Linked DNA regions of Homo sapiens: region 2 is reported to be linked to region 1. The links are microRNA targets in miRTarBase. Many come from high-throughput screens and were not tested one by one. Region 1 holds a microRNA gene; the other region holds the end of a gene's coding sequence.

What was found. The annotated mature microRNA hsa-miR-6765-5p reads GUGAGGCGGGGCCAGGAGGGUGUGU and lies in region 1 at 1,878-1,902, opposite strand. An mRNA with a match to its seed (bases 2 to 7 or 8) in the 3' UTR can be bound and repressed. Matches are read on the target gene's strand: a 7mer-m8 pairs with bases 2 to 8, a 7mer-A1 pairs with bases 2 to 7 and ends in A, and an 8mer does both.
Region 2: miRTarBase lists KLHL32 as a target of hsa-miR-6765-5p. Seed matches in the 3' UTR shown: 7mer-A1 at 1,558-1,564.

What each region holds. Positions count from the first base shown.
Region 1 is chr14:105,148,963-105,152,113 of GRCh38, forward strand. MIR6765 (microRNA 6765) reads right to left here and starts at 1,902; the gene lies at 1,816-1,902. JAG2 (jagged canonical Notch ligand 2) reads right to left here. Exons shown (of 26, transcript NM_002226.5): 7 at 2,976-3,095; 8 at 2,664-2,777; 9 at 2,321-2,434; 10 at 2,029-2,142; 11 at 1,903-1,949; 12 at 1,642-1,815; 13 at 208-358; 14 at 1-127.
Region 2 is chr6:97,138,786-97,141,785 of GRCh38, reverse strand. KLHL32 (kelch like family member 32) reads right to left here. Exons shown (of 11, transcript NM_052904.4): 11 at 1,033-2,665. The coding sequence ends at 2,504. Among named protein-coding and RNA genes, the nearest start is that of MMS22L, 140 kb to the left of the region's middle.

The DNA.
Region 1 (3,151 bases):
CCACTGTCACAGATGCAGGAAAAGTTGCCCCCTGGCTGGCTGACGCAGCGTCCATGGGGGCCACACACGCCGGAGGCTGCTGTGCCAGGCATCCCAGGCCCCGCGTCTGACCCGCAGCCATCGATCACTATGGCAGGCAGTACAGTCAGGAGTCAGGCCCGCCCCTGCCCCACCACCTCCCCCACCACCCCATGCCGCACCCAGCACCTCTGCAGGCCCCGCCAGGGCACGGCTCGCGGGGCACGGAGCAGTTCTTGCCACCAAAGTCATCAGGGCAGGCGCAGTAATAGTCACCCTCCAGGTTATAGCAGCGAGCGCCGTTCCGGCAGGGGCTTGGCTCACAAAGGTCGACATCCACCTGCAGGGTGGGGGGTGCCTGTGAGAGCCTAGGCCCAGGCCCAGGCCGGGAACACAGGCCAGGCCTCTGTCCATACGAAGGTAGATCCCTGGGGACCCCCAGGCCCCTCCGCCCTGGGCCTAACAGTGCCAGCCAGAGCCCAAGACCCCTGCCCACCTGAGACTGCCCAGGCCTTAGCTGAACGCAGATACCTGTGGGCCCCCACCCCCACCTCCACTGCAGCCCAGCTTCCTCACTGTCCCTCGGGAGGAGTGTGGCCTTGGCCCCTGCTGCTGGCAGGAAGGACAGCTCCTGAGCCCCTCACACACTGCCTGGCCACCCTCAGAGCCAAGACTGTGGGTCTTTTCCAGGGCCAGCCACTGCCATGCTTGCAGGTCCTGAGGTCAGACCCCTGCCCTGGGCCCCAAGAAGCCCTCTGGACAGGAGGCCCATCCTCTGCACCAAGGCCAGGGCAGGATCGTGGGCGGCCGAGGGTGGTAGGGAGGTGGGTGGGGGGAGGCAGGGAAAAAGGGGAAGTAAGGGGAGGGGGTGGTAGGGAGGCAGGTAATGGGGAGGCAGGGTTGGGGGAGGTGGGGAAGGGGGTGGTAGGGAGGTGGGTGGGGGGAGGCAGGGTTGGGGGAGGTGGGGAAGGGGGTGGTAGGGAGGTGGGTGGGGGGAGGCAGGGTTGGGGGAGGTAGGGGAGGGGTGATAGTGAGGTGGGTGGGGGGAGGCAGGGTTGGGGGAGGTGGGGAAGGGGGAGGTGGGGAAGGGGGTGGTAGGGGTGGTGGGGAAGGGGGAAGGCAGGTTACTTTGGAGGCAGGGGGGAAGGGGAGGTTGGGGGAGGGGGTCCAGTACCAACAGATGGTCAGAGGGAGGCGAGAGCATCAGCCCTGAGAGAGATGCCCACTCCGACCCAGGACTCACCTATGACAGGTGTATACCTCTCCACCATCAGGCACCCACCCTACCCCATGTGCTCTGCCCACCAGAGCCCCCTGCCCTCCAGTCCCGAGGGAGTGCACAGATGGACAGATAGGCCTGGGCAGCCAGCAGCCCGGGGGCTCCTAGCCCAGGCCACCAGGAAACCCATCACAACAAGCAATGGCCACAGGGGGCCAAGCCTGGTGACCTGTGACAGCCCCGCCTGCCCACCTGGCACCCAGTGGAGAGCTGAGCCTGGGACGCCTTGGGGACAACTTCCCCTGCAGCACCCCTGGGTCACTCAGGCCCCATGGTCAGGGGACGAGGCCTGCCCTACAGCTCCCAGAGCAGCAGGTGGGGCAGGGTGACCAGGCAGACCTCACCTCACAGAGAGGCCCGGAGAAGCCCTGGGGGCAGTGGCAGTGGAAGCCGTCGGCCAGGTCCTCGCAGAGGCCGCCGCTGTGGCAGGGGCTGCTGGCACACTCGTCTCGTTCCAGCTCGCAATGCCGGCCTCCGAAGCCCCGTGGGCACACACACTGGTACCCGTTCACCAGGTCCTGGGCGGGCCAGCCAGGTGAGCGTCCCGCAGGCACCCTGACGGCCCCGCAGCACCCACGCCACACACCCTCCTGGCCCCGCCTCACCTTGCAGGTGCCCCCATGCTGACACTGCCCGCGACAGTCGTTGACGTCTGGGGGCAGAGGAGCAGGGTCAGAGGCGGGGTCCCATGTGCCTCGGCCCACCCGCCGGCGCCCACCCCCCATACTGACTGATATGGCAGTTGATGCCCTTCCAGCCCGGGATGCAATCACAGTAATAGCCGCCAATCAGGTTTTTGCAAGAAAAAGCGTTAAGGCATGGCTTCCCTTCACACTCATTGGCGTCTGTGAAAGAGACAAGGTGGGAGCCGTGGGGCTCGGGCCCTGCCTGCCCCCTGCAGCACGGGCACCTGGCACCCGCAGCCCAGCAGCCCCAGCAGCCCCAGCAGCCCCCGCAGCCCCAGCAGCCCCCGCAGCCCGCATGCGCGGCCCACGTTCCCATGCACTCGCTCGGAGCCCTTACCCAGCTGGCAGGTGGCCCCCACCCACTGCTCGGGGCAGATGCACTCAAAGCCGTCCACCTGGTCCACACAGGTGCCACCGGCCGCACACGGGTTCGAAGCACACTCATCGATGTCTGCAGAGGGTGGAGAAAGGTGGGGCCCTGGCAGTGTGAGCCGTGGGAATAAGGTCCCCATGGGCAGGTGGCGCTGCAAGCCTGGGTCTTCCTGCCATTTGTCCTCGCCAAGCCAGCCGCAGCCACACGTGTGGACTTGACCACTGCACCCCATCCCCAGCGAGTTGCCCCACTCCCAGACCCCCACTGATACTAGGCAGGAGTCCCCTACTCACGTGCAGACACTCACCAAGGGCACAGGTGGGCCCGCTCCAGCCCGATGGGCAGTGGCATTCGAAGCCGGACGGCACCTCATGGCAAGAGCCCCCGTTGGCACACGGGTTGGAGGTGCAGGCGTGCTCAGCTGTAGAACCGCGGGGAGGGGGCAGAGCTGGCAGCCAGGCCCCCAGCTTTCCACAAGCACTCCTCCCCAAGCCCACAGGTTCCCAAGCTGGGGGTCAGGGGCCCACCACACAGGACGCCAGAGGGATGGGGCCTGACCGGCTCCCCAGGGAACCAGTCCCTGCCTGGCCAGAATTTGGGTGGCCAGCCCCCCACGTACCCTTCTCACAGTTCCTGCCCGAGTAGCCGTCAGGGCAGGTGCAGCGGTACTGGTCAGGCTCGGCGTTGATGCACGTGCCTCCGTTGGTGCAGGGGTGGTGGCTGCCACAGTAGTTCAGGTCTGGGGGCAGGGGTGGGATGCTCAGGGGAAAAGCCGGCCCCCCGCTCCCCCACAAC
Region 2 (3,000 bases), not on the chromosome of region 1:
TGTGTTTTGTTTCCTCTTTTAAAGTAAAATATTGAAGTGATATTTAAATGTTTGCAAGTCTCATGACCTTCCTATAGAAATTCACATTAGTATAATAATTTACATTACAAATACAATATAGCCTTTAATTTTGAAGAGTAAAAATGGAAATGGAAGATGAATTACTATAGTGTAGTTCACTTAAATCGAAAATGTATATTTGAATAGTTTCAGTGAAATTTGGCTCATATGACCATAGTTTAATAGAATTCTTATTTCTATTATTGATAACCTTGAATAAAAGGATCTAATTATAAGTTATCTAGGTTTTTTCCCTTTTAGGGAAGAGATGTTATGTTTTTGTACTACTCTTGGCTATAGCTGTAAAGGATGTGTCTGAACCTGGTAAAACTTTTTAAAATTCTGAGTTCAGTTCTGTAATATTAATGAATATTACATTATAAAGATCACTTAGGAGGGGTTTAATATATGCTGATTTGTTTTATATGAATTGTTAGAAATATATACAGAAATAAGGGTAGTTTCAGGCTACCTTTCAGGCTATTATTAGTTGGGCAAGCTTATTTTTAGAGCTTTTCCCTTTCATTGGTTGGATGTAGGGCCTGGGAATACAAATAGATTTTAATAGTTTTACTAGGTAAAACTGCTAGAGAGAAAATTCATGTCCCAAGTAGAAAAATTAATATAGCTGAATACTTAAGTCCTTGTTGAAAAGTTTTCTGAAATACTGGAGTTCATTTTCCTGCCTTGGTAAGGCATTTTTAAAATTTAGTTTAGATGGCTTAAACCATTTAAAGAAGCTGTCTTCATTGTAAATATCAATTGTCAATATCAATTTTCACTGTTCAGAACTGTCCAAATACTCTTAAGGTTTGTCTATACTAAATTCCTATTCTTTTTAAAATTTACCTGTTTTCCTTCTCCCTAGTCCCCTTTCCTGCCCTTTAAATCTGAATAACCAGAAGCCATATATTCAATGTTTTATGTATTTTCAATGTTTTGTGTATAACGATATATGAAGTTAGTGAATTCTGTAAGACAAAAAGATCGTTTTTATTCACTTTTGATTACAAAAAAAGGTTACATGAATAAAATAACAATTTCCTTTAAGAGAGGGATTCCTGAATGATTAAACTGCCAAGGAAAAAAGAGTGAATTCTTCCTTTTAATAAAGGTGACCTAGGTCCTGAGGAAGTTAGGAAAAAAGAAAAACTCACATTATACTTGTTAAATTTGTTTTCAAATGTGATTATTAAGTTGTTGTATTTATTTTTTGTTATAGACAAAGCAAACCCAAAAACTAGTCTAAAAAAGAATTCCTATGCATTATTAAAAGAGATAGTAATAAAATATGTATTGGTGGTGAAGAATTCCACAAGCACTCAAGATTGACATAACCTTTAACAAAGTGGAAAAACTTTTATTAGAACTGCCAATTCTAGGTTCAAATTTATGTCAAAGCACTTTATGGTACCATAATTAGTACAACTAAATTATTTTTTAGCTTTAAATGTCATTTTTCACTAAATGATTTTAAATAAGACATCTGAGAGTTACTTGAGGCAAGTTTAGATACCTGTACAAGTTTAGATTTTGAGAAACTCCCTATTTCCTCATTGTGTGTCTCTTTCACATGCTTTTTAGAATCATTTATTCCACAACATGTTTCCAAATTCTATCTAGTAATTTTTAAACTTCAAAAATAATCTCCCTGTTCAATTACAAGGTTCTAAAGACAATAAAATACCTTATAATTTCAGTAACAACATTTTTCTTTTTCTTGGGCAAAGTATTACAAAGTGTTCGCCTAATCCTCATAATGTTCTTTTAAATTAACGTGGAAATCAGTAATTATCCTCCTTAAAAGGTGGGAAAACTGAAGCACTGTAAAGTTAGGTTCTGACCCAAGGTCAGAGTAACCAAGGTGAAAAATCTGGGTATTTCAACAACTGCTGTTCCAGTGTATGTCTATTATTATTCGTATCACCTTGAATAAAATATGGCATTTAAAAATTTATGATGTCATAATGCTGAGTGAGTCTCTACTGAGCAGGGCTGCATAATGTTAAATTTTAAAAAGAAAAATTACAAGCCCGGCTTTAAATAATAAAGGGATTAAGTACAGAATATATATATTTTTAAGATCATCGATGCCATTGTGTCCAATAAATTGCCTTACTAACAGTGTTATGTTGTCTTAAGACAGTGCTGATTAGAAAAAGTGTACAAAGAATGCTCTAAAGACCCATGGAACACAATATACCTTAAATTGGCACTAAGCTATACCACAATAAAAGTCATACATATTGAATGTTGACATACACTGAGAAGGGTGACGAGTTTTCAATAACGTATTTTAGAAAATTGTTCATTTTTTGCTTAAATTTATCCGAATATAAGACCTATAAAGCAAGACAAGGAAGCATGGAGCACTGAGTCTTTTCATGCCCAGTATCCAACAGTCAGAGCTATGTTTTCCTCCTGTTCATGATGGCTTGGCTTTTCAGATGGTGCCAATCCTGTGATGAGGCACTTGAAGAGTTTGAAGGTTAGGGCATGTAAAATATGGAGCTGGAAGGAAGCATGCTGCTATTCCATTGGAAGCAAAAGGGAGTGTAGGCCCATAGAATACTTCTTCTTTGCCTTCTCTGCTTACATCCAGTACCTACAAAAGAGGAAGAGAAGAAGCTTGTGTATCAAAGATGACTGCTCAAAATAAAGCTATGTATACATAAAAGAAATTCTGAACTTAAATTCAGTTATGTCACCATCACCATATCTTAGGAATTCTTTTTCTTGCTTGGATGGTACTAGAAATATTTATTAAGCTCCTACTAAATGCTACACTATGTTAGTATGTTTTTGGATGTACATATATACATACATGTATATTTATAAGCATTTAATCTTCAGAACAATTATGAGGTAGGTAGCATTACTTCATTTAAGAAAACTGCCTTAGACAAGTTAAATAACTTGCCCAAACTAGTTAGTAGGCAG